3 separate regions of the Homo sapiens genome follow, and all the other regions are linked to region 2. Evidence: fine-mapped expression QTL. A gene starts in region 2. Each other region holds a variant in brackets. All regions are shown on one strand. Distances are between the middles of the regions.

Region 1 (6,614 bases), 57 kb after region 2:
TGTAGGGCAAGGAGCATCTTTATTTACCCAGTTGAGTTTAGTGGCAGCAGAACTAAGTTCGGTTTAGCTGTTCAGTGAGCCAAGCCTCACTTAGCATCTAATTCTGTCTTTATTTTCTGCTTTAGATAGGCCACAGCTCTCCTGAAGGGATTAAGACTTTCTGTGTGAAAAATGGTATTCAGAAGGAAGCCAGCATTAATTCTGTTTTTATACATTTATGAAGATTTGAAGGAATTTCACTGTCAATTCTGTCTTAATTGTATTCTGTATAATAAATCATAATGGTATCCAACGGCTCTTGAAAGGTTTGGTTTTTGTGAACATTTCTTTGAATGTCAAAGTTGTATTAGTTTGTTTCTCAATTAAACTGGGTGCTCTTTGAGGGCAGGGATTTATGGGACTTGTTTGTTTTGCAGTTTTATATCTCCAGCTGCTAATGCAGTGCCTGGTTTGTAGTAGGAATGAGAGATTTACTCCAATAGAACCATACTAAAGATCTTACACTTATGGATTACAGTTGATAGCTTTGTAGAGTGAACTGGTATTCCCTTTAAATGAGACGACATGACCTGAGTATAAAGTATAATCAACTACATGACTCCAGCAAGAATACCATGTGTCCCTCAGATAGCATAGCTGGCAGATGGAGTTATGCACATCAACTGGACATTTAAGACAGCTGGAGATTTCTTACATTTAGATGACAGTTTAGATTAGAAATATTTAATCTTAGCTGTACTTAATATATTATGTAGCTATATGATACATCATGTATATATGGTATATCATATATATCATATATTTAATCACATTTAATCCTTAGCTATATTTTCATCCCCAAAATGGTATATGGATCTGTTTTTATTGTCAGCTGGTTATTTATTGTTGCTTATCCATGGCTCATGAAAATCTTCATGTTACTTGGGAAATCTTTCACTCTGCCTTTTGAAGGACAGCCCAGAACCATTTCCTTCTTGGCACATGACCTTCTAACCCAGTGACCAAAGAGTATGTAAAAGCATGGTACACACTGCTTTTGAAGATTACGTGTGTCTATTCTAGATGTGTCTTATTTCTTGCAGATATATTGCCTACAAAGATTTTGATATATATATATACAGTAGACTATACTATATAATTAATATTTATACCAGATATTAAATATATAAGCATTCTACTAGAACTAAAGTTAAGAATTTGAAATAGTCTCATGTGAGTAATTAAAATAACAATAGCATCTTTTTCAAGAAAGTTTTTTTTAATATGGTGGAGATAATGACATGGAAAAAAGTAGTTAATTATTTTTGGTATTCCCGTATTTCATCAGTAGGTTGCCATAGAACATAATAGTTATATAATCAAACAGCAGAATAATTTTATATGAGGTTTATTGATACAGAAATGTTTGGTTCAGTGTTTGTCTTCCAGTTTTGCAGATTTTCTTTTCGATTTTAAAACTGGAGAATACATTAAAACCAGAAACTTTCAGCCTCTATAATGCCCTCAAAACTCAGCAGGTTTTGAAAATGCCTCTTCCTTCTCTTCTCCTCCCCATAATCCTGCTTATTTTTGGCATTAAGTGAGTCAGGGGTTCCAAACCCAAATACGTTTTTCAAGGCTATGTAGTCAGTGTGAATGAGAGAAGTAAATCTGTTGGGTCCTGTGCCACACTGGAGTTTCCAAGGCTGGTCTAAATGAGTTCAACTTCAGTTTTTTTGTGTTTTTTTAGAGATGGAGTCTTGCTGTGTTGCTTGAGCTGGTCTTGAACTCCCGGGCTCAAGTGATCTTCCAGCCTTGGCCTCCCAAGGTGCTAGAATTATAGGCATGAGCCACTGTGCTGGCCAATTTTTTTTTTTTTAGCCCACTGTGCTACCAGTTTGTGATCTTCACTTTAACTGTGAAAGGACTGTCAAAGATTGTACGTATAAGATTTAGTTTGAGAGCCAGGCCTGGTGGCTCATGCCTGTAATCCCAGCACTTTGGGAGGCTGAGGCGGGTGGATCACGAGGTCAGGAGATCAAGACCATCTTGGCTAACACGGTGAAACCCCGTCTCTACTAAAAATACAAATAAATTGGCCAGGCGTGGTGACGGGCGCCTGTAGTCCCAGCTACTCGGGAGGCTGAGACAGGAGAATGGGGTGAACCCGGGAGGCGGAGCTTGCAGTGAGCAGAGATCACGTCACTGCACTCCAGCCTGGGCGACAGAGCGAGACTCCTTCACCCAAAAAAAAAAAAAAAAAGTAGTTTGTCTTTCTCTTTGAAACTGAATTCATTAAACAAAAGCCTAAATAACTATACTATTACTTGTTATTTATTTATTTATTTATTTTAGACAGAGTCTTGATCTGTCAGCAGGCTGGAGTGCAGTGGTATAATCTTGGCTCACTGCAACCTCTGCCTCCCAGGTTCAAGTGATTCTCGTGCCTCAGCCTCCTGAGTAGTTGGGACTACAGGCATGCGTCACCACACCCAGCTAATTTTTGTATTTTTGGTAGAGATGGGGCTTCACCATATTGGCCAGGCTGGTCTAGAACTCCTGACCTCAAGTGATCCACCCACCTCAGCCTCCCAAAGTGCATAAGTGCTGGGATTACAGGTGTGAGCCACCACACCCAGCCTACTACATATTCTTTTAGACCCAGCTGAAATATCACGTAATTGCTGAAGGCTCCTGAACTCTTCCAGAT[C/G]AGGGATTGATTTTCCTCATTTTAAGATTGTCATGACAACTGTAGTATTGATAACTGTATTTTATTTTATTTTATTTTTTTTGAGACAGAGTGTTGCTCTGTCACCCAGGCTGGAGTGCAATGGCACGATCCTGGCTCACTGCAAACTTAGCCTCCTGCGTTCAAGCAATTCTCGTGCCTCAGCCTCCCAAGTAGCTGGGATTACAGATGTGCACCACCAAACACCTGGAATTAGTCTGGCTAATTTTTGAAGTTTTAGTGGAGATGGGGTTTCCCCATCTTGGCCAGGCTGTTCTCGAACTCCTGCCTCAAGTGATCCACCTGCCTTGGCCTTCCAAAGTGCTGGGATTACAGGTGTGAGCTACCGCACCCGGCTTATTAACCAATTTTTAATGTTCAGCACAACTTGATCATGATGTACAATGTCTTTTTTATGTTATGTGTTGATGGAGTCAAATTACCGATATTTTGGTTCAGTTTTTTCAATAAGAGATCAGGCTATTTTCTGATTTTCATTCTGTTTTTTTCTTTGATCTGTATGTATTTATAAGTGTCTCTTATTTTCAAATAGGTTTTTTCTAGTTATCTTTTTGTAACGGATTTATAGATTATACATTGTGGTTAAAGAATATGGTCTATAGGCTGGGCACGGTGGCTCACACCTGTAATCCCAGCACTTTGGGAGGCTGAGGCAGGGGGATCACTTGAGGTCATGAGTTCAAGACCAGCCTGGCCAACATGGTGAAACCCTGTCTCTACTAAAAATACAAAAAAAATTTAGCCGGGCATGGTGGTGGGTGCCTGTAATCCCAGCTACTAGGGAGGCTGAGGCAGGAGAATCGCTTGAACCCGGGAGGTGGAGGTTGCAGTGAGCCGAGATAGTGCCACTGCAATCCAGCCTGTGCAACAGAGGGAGACTCCGTCTCAAAAACAAAAACAAAAAACAAACGAAAACACACACACGCAAAGAATACGGCCTACATGCACTTTCAGTCCTTTGGAAATTGTTGGTATTTATTTGCCATTTGGCCTAGTTTACCCAGATTCCACAGGTTGTTAATGTTGTACAATTGCGTCTTCTCTTTCTCACTTCACCCATCTATGTAATTTTTCTGAATCATTTGAGAAATAAGTTGCAAACATAATGCTGTATTACCCATAAATCAGGGTGTGTTTCCTGAAAACAAGGATACTCTCCTATAAAATCAGGAAATAAATATTGATATAATACTGCCATCTGATTCACAGACCCTACTCAAATTTCACTGATCTTCCAATTATGTCTTTTATAGCAAAAACAAAACAACAGAAACCAACAAAATTCCCTCAAGAAAACAAAAGCAGAAAAACTTCCCTTTCCCCTTCACTTATTTCTGATTCAGGGACCATTCAGGATTATGCCTTGCGTTTAGTTGTCATGTCTGTTCAGTCTCTTTTAATCTAGAATAGTTCTCAGTCTTTCCTTATTTTCAGTGATCCTAATATTTTTGAAGAGTAGAGAATTATTTTGTAGCAAGTCCCACAATTTGGGTTAGTCTGATGTTTCCTTTTGAATAGATTTAGGTTATGCATTTGTGGCAGGAATACCAAAGACACGATATTATGTTCTTCTCACTGCATCGTATCAAGAGGTTCATGTCAATTTGTCCAATTACTGGTTATGTTTAATTTTACCACTTGGTTAAGATGTTGGCTGGCAAGTTTTTGTAAAATTAGTTTAGAGGTATTTCATACTTACTGGTTAGTAAGTAATAATGCATTTTGTGGGGTGATGCTTTGAGACTATATAAATAGCTTATTTCTCATCAAATTTTTGCTTGCTAGTTTTACCATCCATTGGTGATTTGTGCCTGAATCAGTTATTATAGTGGTTGCTAGATGGTAAATTTAAAAAATTTCATTATTTCTTCTGAATTCATCACTTGGCATTTCTTTTTTTTTTTTTTTTTTTTTGAGACGGAGTCTCGCTTTGTCACCCAGGCTGGAGTGCAATGGCGTGATCTCGTCTCACTGCAACCTCTGCCTCCCAGGTTCACGTGATTCTGCCACCTCACCCTCCCAAGTAGCTGGGGTTACAGGCACCCGCCATCATGCCCTACTAATTTTTGTATTTTTAGTTGAGATGGGGTTTCACCATGTTGGCTAGGCTGGTCTTGAACTCTTGACCTCAGATGATCTGCCCACCTTGGCCTCCCAAAGTGCTGGGATCACAGGCTTGAGCCACCGTGCCCAGCCAATCACTTGCTATTTCACTCTAAGGAAAAGCTTTCTCTCTCTGGTTTTTGTCTTTGTTTTTGTTTGTTTAAAAATCTTTTAAACATATGAGCACAGCCTCATTGATTCTTATTTTGTTCCTTTTTCATGTATTTTTTGATATTCAAATTGTCCCAAATTTGGCCAGTGGGAACCCTTTCAGGCTGGCTCCTGTGTCCTTTTTCCATGTCCTCATCATTCTTTTTTTTTTTTTTTTTTTTTTTGAGACAGAGTTTTGCTCTTGTTGCCCAGGCTGGGGTGCAATGGCGTGCTCTTTGTTCACTGCAACCTCCACCTCCCAGGTTCAAGCGATCCTCCTGCCTCAGCCACCCAAGTAGCTGGGATTGTAGGCACCTGCCACCACACCTGGCTAATTTTTCTATTTTTGTTTTTATTTTTTTTATTTTTTGAGACGGAGTCTTGCTCCGTCGCCCAGGCTGGAGTGCAGTGGCGCGATCTCGGCTCACTGCAAGCTCCGCCTCTCGGGTTCACGCCATTCTCCTGTCTCAGCCTCCAGGCATGCGCCACCATGCCCGGCTAATTTTTTTGTATTTTTAGTAGAGACGGGGTTTCACTGTGTTAGCCAGGATGGTCTCGATCTCCTGACCTTGTGATCCGCCCACCTCGGCCTCCCAAAGTGCTGGGATTACAGGCGTGAGCCACCGCGCCTGGCAATTTTTCTATTTTTAGTGGAGACAGGATTTCACCATGTTGGTCAGGCTGGTCTCGAACTCCTGACCTCAGGTGATCCGCCCGCCTTGGCTTCCCAAAGTGCTGAGATTATAGGCATGAGCCACCACGCCTGGTCATGTCCCCATCATTCTTTGATCACTTTTTTTCTTACTTTTTGGAATAATAAGATTTTCTGTGGGCTGGGCGAGGTGGCTCACGCCTATAATCCTAGCACTCTGGGAGGCCGAGGCTGGTGGGTCACCTGAGGTCTGGAGTTCGAGACCAGCCTGGCCAACATAGTGAAACCTTGTCTCTACTAAAAATATAAAAATTAGCCGGGCATAGTGGCACACACCTGTAGTCCCAGCTGCTAGGGAGGCTGAGGCAGGAGAATTGCTTGAACCCGGGAGGCGGAGGTTGCAGTGAGCTGAGATTGCGCCACTGCACTCCAGCCTGGATGACAGGGCGAGACTCCGTCTCAAAAAAAAAAAATTTCTGGGCTCATCTTTACTTTTGTTATCTCAGTCGTGGAATCAATAATTTTATCAGGGAACCCTGGTTCCTTTTATTAGTGAATGTACTTAGAAAATAAAATATGTGCACTACTAGATATGTTCTTTCTATTGGGGTGTTCTTCCTTTTAGGCTCTATGTGAGGAGAGAACTAGAATATTGTTTTAAAATGTACCAGGTAATCCCAGCACTTTGGTAGGCTGAGGCAGGCAAGGCTGGCAGATCACTTGAGATCAGGAGTTCGAGACCAGCTTGGCCAACATGATGAAACCCCATCTCTACCAAAAAACACAAAAAGTAGCCAGGCGTGGTGACACGCACCTATAGTCCTAGCTAGAGTGAGATAGAGTGAGACCCTGACTTAAAAAAATAAACAAATAAATAAAATATACTGGAATTTAATTTATAGGTATGAATGACACAGAGAGGCCAATATTATTGAAAATGTGTTACTCACAGTTCTTCTGAAACAGCAGGCGCACCATACT
Region 2 (6,444 bases):
AATGGATGATTCATCTCTGCCCAGTCCTCAATCCACGGGTCTAGGAATGGGATGGTTGTTTTAGGTAGGCTTGGGAGCCAGGCTGCCCTGAACTCTGGCCATCCACACTTCTAAAGCTCTATTCCTTCCTCTTGGAGAGCAGAGCCACCAGGCTGGAGCATCCTTGCCCTCTACCCAGTTTTCCTCATTCCCTCTCATTTCAGGCCAAGCCCAAAGTGTGTTCCTTCTCTCTTACCTCTCAGACTTACCTTTGTTCTAACCTACACTTCCCTCCAGAGCCTTCTTTGTTTGCCCAGGTCTTGTATCTAGCTTTTTCCTCGCCCACCTCCTCCCCATAGACCAGTAAATAAGCCAAACATAAAGATCCTGTTATTCCCTTCCCCAACAACTTCCTTTTACCATCCAAACTTCCAAAAGGAATGTTTTGCCCAATTTCCACTTCCTCCTCAATTGCTCACTCCCTCCTTTAATCCAAACCCATGCCCTCAACACTTTTCCTACTAAATGTAACCACTTGCTAACAAATTCCCTTCTTCTCAACAGTCATGTGACACTGCCAGCAGCCTCAGTCCTTCCTAAAAGTGCCCCTGCCCTCATCTCCTTTTGTTTCCGCCATAGCCCCTCTTTCCTGCCAATCCAAAGCATGAGCATCGTTCTGTCTCCCTCACAGCTGCCACTGTGCCCTCAGTTTTAATCTCTCTGCTGGGTACCAATGACTGCAAATCTACTCTGTATTTCCAAAGAACCTCAAATCAATCTGCTGTGACCAAACTCACCAACTCATCCTTCCACCCCAAATCAACTCTCCCTTTTCATGGCCCTAACTTCTGTAGCTCCAAATTGGATTTCAAAGGCCTAAGCCATCAAAACTAGCCTTACAACCTTCAGGGCATCCCATCATTTGCTGGGGATCAATTATTACATCTAAACAAGAAAATGGGGATGTTTAACCAAAATCTGTATTCACCTCCCTGATGCTCCAACTCCTGGCTACCAAGTGTTACAGGTCTGTCTCTATGATATTCCTGGACTCTCTGTGCCCCCACATCCTCTTGTGCTGCCATAATCGGCCTTCTAACATGACTCGTGCCTCCCATTCAACAAATACAATTCTGTTGATACTGTGTACAGGGAAATTGTGCTAGACACTGGGGCTGAAAGGGGTGAGTCGTCAACAAGTGCAGCAGGAAACTTGCCCTTTAAGGACACGATGCAGGGGAGAAGCAGCCATGGAGACAATCAGCCATGGTGCCCTCTTTGTGTGCATGCAGGGACTAGGGTGTTGACATGGAAACAGAGGTTCTGCAGCAGAGTGTTACAGTTGAGATGTGATGGGGAGCAGTGCCTCAAAACAAGGGGGAGTGGGGCCCTCAGAAGCCTCCACCAAAGGCCCAGAGATGGGGCCCGAGGAGAGCTACACCAAGCTGCACCAGTCACAGTGGGACTCTGAGGCTGAACTAAGAAGCCTATGGAACACTGTCCATTGAGCCCAAGTCCATAAGGCTGGCCTTCCCGATGCAACATCCCTGTTCCACACCCTGCCAGTTGACTGTACCCCCACCCCCCAGCTGTGGGCTTCTTTGCTTCTGCCACACTGCCTGGATGGCCCTTCCTCCCTGTCTTTCCACTCCTCACACCCATGCCCCATTTCTTTCCTGTTAATCTGTTGGGTAGGACCCTTGCAACATGCTGCCTTATGTGGTCAATACTTGTACAAGCTCCTTCAAGCACACAGAAATGACTACACAGCCAGACTGTAGAAAACTGGAACTTGGACAAGAATATTGCTCCGATGATCTAACCCTCCTCAGGGGTTGAGGAAGGTGCATGCAGAAGCCACAGGAGTCCTTCAAGGGACCTCTACTTCCCTTGAGTGGCTGTGTCCCATTCTGTTTCTGAGCCCTGTCCTCTGAGGGCCCCAGTGCATCACTACCCCCCCACTTATGGTAGGGCTCACCAGGGGGATAGCCACGCTTGGGCAGCTCCACGCCCCAGGCGTCAGCCACATGGGTCAGAAGCAGGTGTGAGAGGTGGCGGTGTGCATGCTGGTCCCAGTGGACACCATCCCGATGACGGTGCTGTACTGCATGCCGGAAGTGAAAGTGGAGGTCTAGGACATCAAAGCAGTGGTCCCCGGCCAGCGTAGCACTGTAGAAGTTCCCTTCAACCACATCCCGCCGCAGGGAGCCTGCCAGGGGCTGGAGCTAAGTGAGAAAGTGCAGCCTCTAAGAGCCACAGAACGCAGCAGGGTCTGAAAGCAGGGTGTCCTATCTACCAGTCTGCTATCCCATCTCTTGTCCTGATGGGCCTCAGTCACTTGCCTCTGGCAGGAGGAAACCCCCAGTGATACGTTCCCCGAGGGGCATCGCCATGTTCCACACCAGCAGGCAGGAGTCTGGCAATACTTGGTCCATGCGCACAAACACCCGCTCCAGGTTCTCCCGGTAGCTCTCCATTGAGCAGCGACCATATCTGTTGGATAACACACAGGGTGGGCAAGAGCACAAGGGTGGACTGCCTCAGCCGTACTTCCAGCCCCAACCAGTATTCCCCTTTCCCTCGCCCCAACCTGGAGAGATCCCAGAGGCAGGAGTTGATGATCACCAGGTCCGGGGCAGGTCCATATGTCAGCTCTTCCAGAACATCCTCAAGGTACTCGGAGTAAACACGAGTGAGGAAGTAGAAGCGCACAAGGTGGTGGCCAGAGCCCGAGCAGAACTGGCGGACCTCACGATACTGTGTCCCGTTGTGCAGCTCGCCCAGCTGGCCCCCAGCCACCAGCTGGTCCTGTTCAAAGCTCAGCTCCCCCTACCCACCCCCCCCACCCTACTGGTCAGACCCATGCCAGGGAGGAGAACCCTGCCAGGCCAGGGTCTGTGCCCACCCACCACTGACATGGCCACCAAGCTTCCCTCACCTTGGCTTTCAGCTGGGCAGCTGTGAGCAGTGAGTCTTTCTGGAGCAAGAGCACCAGGTCCTTGTACACAGCCCTCTGAACTGGGAGGAGACAGAGATCCCAAGGCTGAGGCAGACCTCAGCCTGCCCCAGCTCCTTCCAAGTCCAGGACCCCATTTTCCCAGGGCTGAGGTGCCCGACACCAGCTCTGTGGTTGACTTAGACGCAGGAGAAAAGATGAGGTTAAAAAGTCCTGGCATTGCCTCTGTTCTGTGTGCCTCCTGGCCAGCAGTATACAGTGACCCAAGATCACCTGGCAGAAATTAAGTCGGCCAAGTCACCCAGGAGACACACTACACAATGCAACGCTTTCGTGATGGAAATTATGGGGAGCTGTCAGGGCGAGAAATGCTGAGCAAGGATGGGCTAAAAAGTGCACAGGTTATTACACCTGTCAGGACTCCTGTGGAAGATGTGTGGGACATAAAAAGAGAAAACCTACTGGACGGAACAGACCAGAAGACAGACAAGAGATGTGAGATGGAAACAAATGGTCCAGACACACTGAACGGGCTGCAAGGTGTGGGACTGGAAGCGTCACCCTAGAAGAGGCACTCACTGGAGTCCCCCAAGATGACCACGAACTTGTTGTGTAGCAGCTGCTGGACTTCCGAGGCCTGGAAGTGGACCATGTCGCTTCGCAGCGGGCGGCGCGGCTCCTCGCTCGACAGACAGAAGACCATGCCGCCACCAGCAACGACAGGCTGCAGGGAGAGGCCACTAAGCAGCGCGATGGTGGGGACTCTGGGCAGGTCAGCCTCAGGGCTAGCCCCTCCGGGGCTGCTCAATGCTAAAGGGAGGAGGTGACGGCAGCAGAGCCATGGTGGCGCCAGCCTTGGTCACACTTGGTACCAGAGGCAGGGGGTCGTCCAGCCAGCAGGCCTCCAGGGCACTGGGGAGCTTCCCGCGCGGCGCCGCCCTGCGCCTCGCCACGTGCCCGCCGCCGTCCCGCGCATGCGCGCACCCGCTCGCGCCAATTACCAAGTCCCGGGGCTCCGCGGTGTTCACCCGCGACCCGGGTATGCCTGCGCACCGCGCGCCTGGCCCGCAGCGGGCTCCTAGCCAAGCCTCATGTTCCCGCGCCCCAGTCGGCCAGTCGGTTCTGCAAAGCTCCCGCCCCGCAGAGACCGTGGGTCCAGGTTAGCCGTCGGTGCACAGCCCAGCGCCCAGCGCTCTCCATGCGAGCGTCGCTGTGGCCCCGACGGCGCCTCAGGCCTCGGCGCCTCGGGCTGCGACGCTCACAGCTTCCACTTCCGTTCACCCATGTCCCGCCCTGAGCGACCCCCAGTGCCCGAAGGGAAAGCAAGGCGATGGAGGTGGCCGCCACAGGGCGCAGGAGCCAGGGCTGGGCCCACTTGGCGGGCGCGAAGCCCAGGTACGGGCTGGGGTCTCGGGGCGGCAGCCAAGTGAGGCTGCCCACAGTGGTGATGGCCGCGGCGGCGGCCTCGCCACGTGACCCGGACGGGCGGAAGCGGAAGTGCCGGCCTGGAGCCCGCTCTAGGTGGGTGTCCCCTCGGTGCTTCCCAGCTGCCGTCTGCACCAGCCATGGACTGCTACACGGCGAACTGGAACCCACTCGGGGACTCTGCCTTTTACCGGTGAGCTGCCCCGCCCTCCCGCCCACGGCCTGGCTTACCCTGCTCGCCCGCCGGCTGGAGTCTCCCGGCGGCGTTCGCCCCTGTCACTACTGGCGCTGGGGTCCGCCCCGCGCCGGCTCTCCCCGAGCGTCTGCCACTTAGCGCACAGCCGCCTTTGGGCAGGGAGCCGGGCCTTCCCCTGCTCCAGAAAAGGAAACTGAGGCAAGCACAGTGGTCACCCCGAAGCCCAGGTCTGTTAGCCTCCGGAAAGATGCTCAGATCTCGCTGAGGGAGGCAGCTCGCGGGTGACAGCGAGTGCCCAGTCTCCTGCCGGAAAGTGCTGCTGAAGTCAGACCACAGGGGCGCTCCGAGGGGGGCGGGATCGCACGGCGGGCGGGGTAACAGTGCTGACCAAGGCTGGGAAAAGGGGGCGAGTCGTCCGTGAATCCCGGAACAGCGGAAGTGGGAACCCCTGGGTTAGGGCAGCCCGCCCATGGGAGTTGTAGAGTCCTAAACCACGGATTTTTCTAAAGTGTAAACCCGTTACATCGTTACCCAGATTAGGATTTTCCCATAGCTTCCCTAATAGGAAAAACTACGAACTTCTCGTGGAACGTCTATCTGTAAGGCAGCCCGTTTGTCTCTCCAACCTCATCTACCGCTCTCCTACCCAAATCTTGCGTTCCAGCTGCGCAGAATTACAAGGCCCTAACCAGTCTGCAGTTTCTGTGGATACTGCCATTTCTCTCTTTATCTCACTGAAGAATTTTGCGCATCCTTCAGGACTTAGTAGTTCAAGGGTTCTTTCTGGAACTGTGCCTGATTCTCCCCCAATAGAATCCTGTGGGCCTCACTGGGCCCAGTGCTAGGGTCTTTTAGGTATGGTCTATTTGTATATTTAGGCGACATTTGTATAGGTTTCTTCTGCTAAACCAGGCTCCTTCAGGGCTGAAAGCATTTTTTTTTTTTTTGACAGAGTCTTCCTCTGTTGCCCAGGCTGGAGTGCAGGGGCACTCGGCTCACTGCAACCTCCGCCTCCCGGGTTCAAGGGATTCTCCTGCCTCAGCCTCCCGAGTGGCTGAGACTGCAGGCCCCTGTCACCACGCCCGGCTAATTTTTGTATTTTTTGCTAGAGGTGAGGTTTCACCATGGTGGCCAGGCTGGTCTTGAACTTCTGACCTTAAGCAATCTATCCACCTTGGCCTCCCAAAGTACTGGGATTACAGGCGTGAACCACTGAGCCCGGCCAAAAGCATGTTTCTTGCTTCTCTTTATCACCAGTGCATATTTAGAACAGTGCTTGCTATGTAATAATTGCCCATTAAAGTTTTTTAAAAATATTTTACTGGGCCGAGCTTTGTGGCATGTTCCTATAGTCCCAGGTACTGGAGAGGCTGAGTTAGGAGGATCACTGGAGCCCAGAAGTTTGAGGGTGTAGGGACCGATGTTAGAACCTGTGAATAACCACTGCACTCCAGCCTGGGCAACATAGCATACTCCCTCTGAAAAATTAAAAATATTATTTTAGGCCAGGCGCAGTGGCTCATGCCTGTAATCCCAGCACTTTGGGAGGCCAAGGTGGGTGAATCACCTGAGGCCAGGAGTTTGAGACCAGCCTAACCAACATGGTCAAACCCTGTCTCTACAAAAATTAGCCAGGCATAATGGCAGGTGCTTGTAATCCCAGCTACTTGGGAGGCTGAGGCAGGAGAATCGCTTGAACCTGGGAGGCGGAGGTTGCAGTGAGCCAAGATAGCGTCATTGCATTCTAGTCCAGGCAACAGAGTGAGACTCCGTCTATATATAGATATATCTATCTATATCTATCTATAGATAGATAGATATAGATAGATATATAGATGTATCTATATATATATAGATACATCTAGATGTATCTATATATAGATAGACA
Region 3 (6,614 bases), 190 kb after region 2:
GAGGTGGACCCAATATGAGTGTCCCTAAGAAGGGATTGCCTCATTGCTGACTACATAAAATAAAGCAGTAGAATTTGAGAAATTATACAAACAAGAAACTTACAGTCTAATATTCAGTAATAAGGAAATCTTTTAAAGAAAAAAGCCCTCAGGTCTATTAAAAAGCAGAGCTGTCCGGAAACTCATACTAAAAAGGGACACTAGCAGTCCCCTAGGTCAACTTCCTCTCAGTATAGGAAACCTCCTAATATTGTTCCTGAGTCAGAATCATACAGCCTCTACTAAGCACATTCAATCTCAGGGATATCTCCCTCACCCCCCACATTATGGGGGGACCCAGTCTGTGTTCTGACAATGCTTATTCTTTTAAAAATTATTTCTGTTGAGGTTGCACATTGCAGCAAATGAGCGGTTCACTATGTCTGGGGTGTCACTTAGCAGGGATGAGAATCTAGAGAATGGGCCTGGAGAGAAGCTAGCAAGGCCTGGTGAGAAAATTCCTTCTAAGCCACAGTGAAGAGTTTGGTCTTCCTAAAGCAATTGAAGAGCCCTTGACAACATCCCATTTGTGTTTTTTAAAAAATCCCTCTGGCAGCAGTGAGAAGGACTCATTAGAAATGCGAAAGCTGTGGCAGTAATGCTGGTGGCCTGGACTCGGGTGGTGAGAGGGTGCTGTCCCAGAAAGGGTGAAGTGAGGAGGAATTAAGGATGGCACCCACTCATGACTCATTGAATTTATAGTCAAACATTTAAAATACAAAGTATGTTTTACATTAGTTGTCTCAAGTCACTAGTTGTTCCCCATCTGTACTTGTGTTAACTTTGGTACAAGGCTTTACACATATTTTCTCACCCTGATGTTTCATTACATCAGGATTTTTTTTTTTTTTTTGGTTTTGTTTGTTTGTTTGTTTGTTTGAGAGAGGGTCTCACTTTGTCACCCAGGCTGGAGTGCAGTGGCACGATCTTGGCTCACTGCAGCCTCAACCTCCCAGGTTCAAGTGATCCTCCCACATAGCCCTCCAAGTAGCTAGGACTAAAGGCACGTGCCACCATGCCCAGCTAGTTTTTGTATTTTTTTGTAGAGACAGGGTTTCACCATGTTGCCCAGGCTGGTCTTGAACTCCTGGGCTCAATTGATCCACCCACCTGGTTGACCCAAAGTGCTAGGATTACAGGTTTGAACCACCTTGCCCGGCATTTTTTTCAATTTTGATCAGTCATTTAACTCATTAGCTATTCTTCCTAGACTTGTATCATGTACCTAATCAACAGACATACTTTGTAGGTCTTCATCATCTTTTTTTTTTTTTTTTTTGAGACGGAGTCTCTGTCACCCAGGCTGGAGTGCAGTGGCACAATATGGGCTCATTGCAACCTCTGCCTCCCAGGTTCTGGCAATTCTCCTGCCACAGCCTCCCTAGTAACTGGGATTAAAGACACCCACCATCATGCCTGGCTAATTTTTGTAGGCACGGGGTTTCACCATGTTGGCCAGGCTTGTCTCAAACTCCTGACCTCAGGTTATCTGCCTGACTCAGCCTCCCAAAGTGCTGGGATTACAGGCGTGAGCCACTGCGCCCAGTGTCTTCATCATCATTAATAACAATACTGATGAGGTGGGAGGTTCGGTTAAGGTGCTTGGCTTTGCACTCAAGGAAGCACACACCTGAGTAACAAAAGCTGTTTAGGAAATGAGCCACTGTGTTCTCAGGAGCTAGGTGCCTGTTCCTGCCGTCTCTGATCAGTCGTGATGGAACCTGCAGATCAGACCAGGGCCCTACCTGTGGTTCCTTCTGCACCCCTGCCCTTCAGATCTGTGATGGGCAGGACCAAAGAGCAGGCCGAAGAGCTGGAACCACGAGCACAAGGACCATCTCGGCCCACTGCCCTGTGATAAAATGTGGCCCAGTGAACATCTCCGCCTCTGTCCAGTCAGATGCAGGCTCTTCCATCCTTGAAAAGGACCTAGTGAGAGTAAAGGGCAGGGGGCAGGAAGCATTTCATGTGTGTGGCGGTGGGGAGAAGAGTCGTGCGCACACAAATTCTGCTGCCTGTTGAGTGAGGCCTCTCCCTCTGCCTTCCACTGTAGCTTATGCTCTGTCTTCCTAGGCCAGTGAAGCAGACAGTAGTGCTTGCCCTCAAAAGCTTCTGAGTGGATTGGAACAGGATGTTAGTGATGTTCTTTACAAGGCCTCACTGGCCCCCAAGTTCACTTTCTGTTCCATTCATGTTGTCAAGTGTAGCTCCCAGAAGTAATTAACGCACTAAGCCTAAATGATGCAATGAAAGGTGCCTACACTTATACAGTGACACTACCATCCTCACCTACAATATTAAGTTCCCAGAGAAAAAAATTCGATCCCATAATATAAATTCTGTACTTACAAATTAAAATCTCGAAGGAATTAAAAATTTTTAATTATCTCCCTCTGCTTTTTTTTTTTTTTTTTTTTTTTTTTTGAGATGGAGTCTCACTCTGTCCACCAGACTGGAGTGCAGTGGCACAATCTCAGCTCGCTGCAACCTCCACCTCCAGGGTTCAAGTGATTCTCCCACCTCAGCCTCCCGAGTAGCTGGGATTACAGGCATGCACTACCATGCCCAGCTAATTTCCATAGTAGAGACAGGGTTTCGTCATGTTGGCCATGCTGGTCTCAAACTCCTGACCCCAAGTGATCCGCCCGCCTTAGCCTCCCAGAGTGCTAAGATTACAGGCATGAGCCATTGCGCCTGGCCTCCTTCTGCTCTATTTTAATCAAAAGGGTCCACCAGGATGCCTGGGTTCCCTCAGCAGCTGCAGCTTGGACCATCATCAGCCTGGGCAGACAGAGCAGTGCCAGGAACTCCCATGCTGGGTCAACCCTAGGCCTAGCCCAACCCTAGGCCTCATCCTGCTTCTCTAAAGCATAGTGAAACCTGATAGCATTAGTCTTCACAAAGCTGTGTGTCCCCATCACCATGTCCGCCTTAGACCTCATAAGAGACATAAGACATAAGAGACTTCATGCTATCTGGTGGAAAGACAAAGTAGGAGAAAAGACAGAAAACCTTCCCTGTTTCACTTCTTTAAGATGCTATTATCTAGAGGCCGTAACGTGAACACACAAATCTGAGATGAAACTCCAGTCCCCAGCTTTTCTTCTACTGGTCTTGAATCCCCATTCCCCATCTTCTGTCCCTCACCCACTGATGACTTTAACACCTGGCTTACTGCTCCTTTTGAGCCCCTGTTCCTGACTCTGCTTTTGGAGGCATCAGTCACCATGTGGATGATCCATCTATCCTCAATCTTTCTATTCCTCAGCTTCCTCAGCCACCTGATCCCATGGTCAAGTCACCATCTGCCCTGTATCTGCACTGCCCTTGGAATCTCAACAAGGCATCCGCCCTGTTTACTGCCTCCTTCCTCCCACCTCAGTATTCTCTTTTATTCCAGTCATTTTTGTCTTCATCAAGTCCTTAGAGTTATTGATGCCTCCACTTTCTCAACATCAGTCACACCGAACATGTCCTCACCTTCCTCCTTACT[C/CTGTT]TGTGTGTTTTTGAGTTCTGTTTTTGAGCGTTTGAGTTTTCTGATTTGAGTTTTTGTGGTATGTCATTATTACCTTTCCTTATTCCCTCATGCTTTCTTACTTTCATAGCAAACTCTCTAGTAAAACCCAGTTATATGCCTCTATCTGATATAGCAAACATCACTGGGCAAAAACACAAAACAGTGCCAAATGCTCTCACACTGAACTCATGACCACAAATCTCATAGAGGTAATTGGTGCCACCTAGCAATGCTATTGCTCTTTCTTTTCTTCCTGAAACCTCCAGCATCTGCTCTTGCCTGTCCCATCATACTCACACCTTAGCTTGTGACCTGGCCTCATTCTTCTCCAAGAAATCAGACAAGAACACTGTCATCCTCCCACCCCCAAACAACCAGCCTCTTCAAATCTGTACCAACTCTATTCTCTCTTGTTACAGTGGAAAAGGGTTTCTGCATCTCTCAATCCACCTGTCCACTGTGCTCTTGGCCCCATTCCGTCCTGCCTGCTCAGGGATGTTGCTGCTATAACCATCTTCTCTCCCACCTCCATCAGCAGTTCCCCTCTTTAACCACTACTCTCATCAGCCTATACATGTTACATTTCCTATCTTTTAAAAACAAAAAATCTGCTAATCTCACTTTCCCTTCCACCTACTATCCTATTTCTCTGCACCCCTTCCCAGCAAAACTCCTTTAAAGAGTTGGCTTTCGGCCGGGCGCGGTGGCTCACGCCTGTAATCCCAGCACTTTGGGAGGCCAAGGTGGGCGGATCACAAAGTCAGGAGATCGAGACCAGCCTGGCCAACATGGCAAAACCCCATCTCTACTAAAAATACAAAAATTAGCTGGGCGCGATGGTGCATGCCTGTGATCCCAGCTACTCGGGAGGCTGAGGCAGGAGAATCGTTTGAACCAGGGAGCTGAAGGTTGCAATGAGCCAAGATCGCGCCACTGCATTCCAGCCTGGTGGCAGAGTGAGACTCCATCTCAAAAAAAAAAAAAAAAGAGTTGGCTTTCTCCCTGCAAGTTCTCTGTTCGCTCTGTTCCTTCCAGGCTTGGCCCCACTGGGACTGCTTTAGTCAAGATCACCAGTGACTGTCCTCTTGCCAAATCCAAAGGTCATTTCTCTTTTCTGATTTTTTTTTTTTTGTCCTTACAGCAGCATTTGAAAGAGTCAGTACCTCCCTCCTCTTCCTCAGAACACTTACTTCCGTAGCATCACCCCACTCACTAACCTGGCAGCTCCTTTGTTATTTCTTTGTGACCTCCTCCTCTAAAACATTGGAGTATACTAGACTCGGGCGCTAGCCCACTCTGTTTTCTTTTGACACACTAGCCCTTCAGGATCTCAGCCAGTCCTATGGCTTTAAGTACAACCCATATGCCAGGGATCCTCAATCTGCGTCTCTAGGCCAGTCACCTGTCCCCCTTCCCAATGTGGGCTCCTGATTTCCTCCTTCCCCCGACACCAGTCCACCCCACTCTTAGCCATCTAAATAAATAGTACCACCTTCTGCCCAGTTGCTCATGTCTAAAATCCGGGAGTTACCTTCCTTCCTCCCCTCTCCTCACCCCTCACATCCAGTCTGCCACTGAGTCCTGATACAGGCAGAGCCTCCCCACTTTTCTCCAGCGTAACTGCTGTCATCTGAACAAGCCCTCGTCTCTCACTGCTTGCCCGTGGGACTGTGGGCATGACTCATATGCGCAGCCTCGTCTGCAGTGGCCTGGCAACTGGTCCTCCTGCTCTCATCCTAACCCACTTTTAGTTTTTCAAATGGCAGCTGCTGGTCCTTTTGAAAATATAAATCATTGTCACTCCTTGTCTTACAAATCCTGTTTGAGGCCAGGTGCGGCAGCTCACGCCTGTAATCCCAGCACTTTGGGAGGCCGAGGCGGGTGGATCACCTGAGGTCGGGAGTTCGAGACCAGCCTGACCAACATGGAGAAACCCCGTCTCTACTAAAAATACAAAATTAGCGGGCATGGTGATGCATGCCTGTAATCTCAGCTACTGGGGAGGCTGAGGCAGGAGAATCACTTGAACCCGGGAGCCGGAGGTTGCAGTGAGCCAAGATCGCGCCATTGCACTCCAGCGTGGGCAATAAGAGTGAAGCTCCATCTCAAAAAAAAAAAAAAAAAAAATCCTCTTTGGTCTTCCAGAGATCTTGAGAGAAAATCCGCCCATGTATACAAAATTTAGAGACTTTTGATCAGATGTGGTGGCTCACGCCTGTGTAATCCTACCACTTTGGGAGGCTGAGGCAGGTGGATCACCTGAGGTCAAGAGTTTGAGACCAGCCTGGCCGACATGGTGAAACCCTGTCTCTACTAAAAATACAAAAATTAGCTAGGCATGGTGGCGCACACTTGTAGTCCCAGCTACTTGGGAGTCTGGGGTGGGAGAATCACTTGAAACTGGGAGGCGGAGGCTGCAGTAAGTCAAGATCATGCCACTGCACTCCAGCCTGGGCGACAGAGCAAGACTCTCTCAAAAAAGAAAAAAAAAATGAGACTCTTAGTGTTGATACCTAGTCCCTAGACTTGATATGTATTTCTGTCTGAGAGATCATGCTCAATTCCTCCAGCACACACACACTGTGGCTCACACCCATGGGGACCTTATGGTTCTGATGGTTTTAAAGGCCCAGTCTTCATCCCAGCTGAGACACTGTGTAAAGCAGTGTTGAGAAGGCACTGTGGTAGCAAAATCCATTCCACCCACCAGTGCCATAAAAACTAATATAATGCCTGATCGAGGTGAGCCTTAATGAGAATTTTTTTTTTTTTTTGGCTGTTCTGGTTGAAGAGAGGCCCAGGGCACCGATCCCTGAGGCATCCCCAGGGCTTCTAGAGAACATGGGTGGAAAAGCACTAGTCCAGGGCATGTTCTTGATTCAACACTTTAATAATCATGATTTTATTTGGACTGTGAGACTATTCACAATTTCTTTTTCTACTTAATTTTTTTCCAAATCTTTCAATGACATTATATGTATGGTTGAGAATTTTTCAATTGCCAGTAGTGAAGAATCTCAGATCTTACCCCCAAATTCTCTAAAGAAATGGGCAGCATAAC

Evidence for each region. PIP is the estimated chance that this variant, and not a neighbour inherited with it, causes the effect.
Region 1: its variant is the best candidate, but not a certain one, in a credible set for the expression of PCED1A in whole blood (TOPMed, PIP 0.76).
Region 3: its variant is the best candidate, but not a certain one, in a credible set for the expression of PCED1A in whole blood (INTERVAL, PIP 0.82).

Annotation. Positions count from the first base shown.
Region 1 is chr20:2,892,764-2,899,377 of GRCh38, forward strand. The region is part of intron 1 of PTPRA (protein tyrosine phosphatase receptor type A); the gene reads left to right. Among named protein-coding and RNA genes, the nearest start is that of PTPRA, 23 kb to the left of the region's middle. The variant C/G (reference allele first, on the strand shown) is at 2,690.
Region 2 is chr20:2,836,275-2,842,718 of GRCh38, forward strand. It overlaps PCED1A (PC-esterase domain containing 1A), which reads right to left and starts at 4,381. Exons shown (of 8, transcript NM_022760.6): 1 at 3,937-4,381; 2 at 3,515-3,659; 3 at 2,918-2,997; 4 at 2,570-2,808; 5 at 2,322-2,472; 6 at 1,958-2,204; 7 at 1-40. The coding sequence starts at 3,638. It overlaps VPS16 (VPS16 core subunit of CORVET and HOPS complexes), which reads left to right and starts at 4,471. Exons shown (of 24, transcript NM_022575.4): 1 at 4,471-4,553. The coding sequence starts at 4,501. RefSeq lists enhancers at 1,907-2,206, 3,683-4,214, 4,748-5,279.
Region 3 is chr20:3,028,241-3,034,854 of GRCh38, forward strand. All of the region lies in intron 20 of PTPRA (protein tyrosine phosphatase receptor type A), which reads left to right. Among named protein-coding and RNA genes, the nearest start is that of GNRH2, 12 kb to the right of the region's middle. The variant C/CTGTT (reference allele first, on the strand shown) is at 3,533.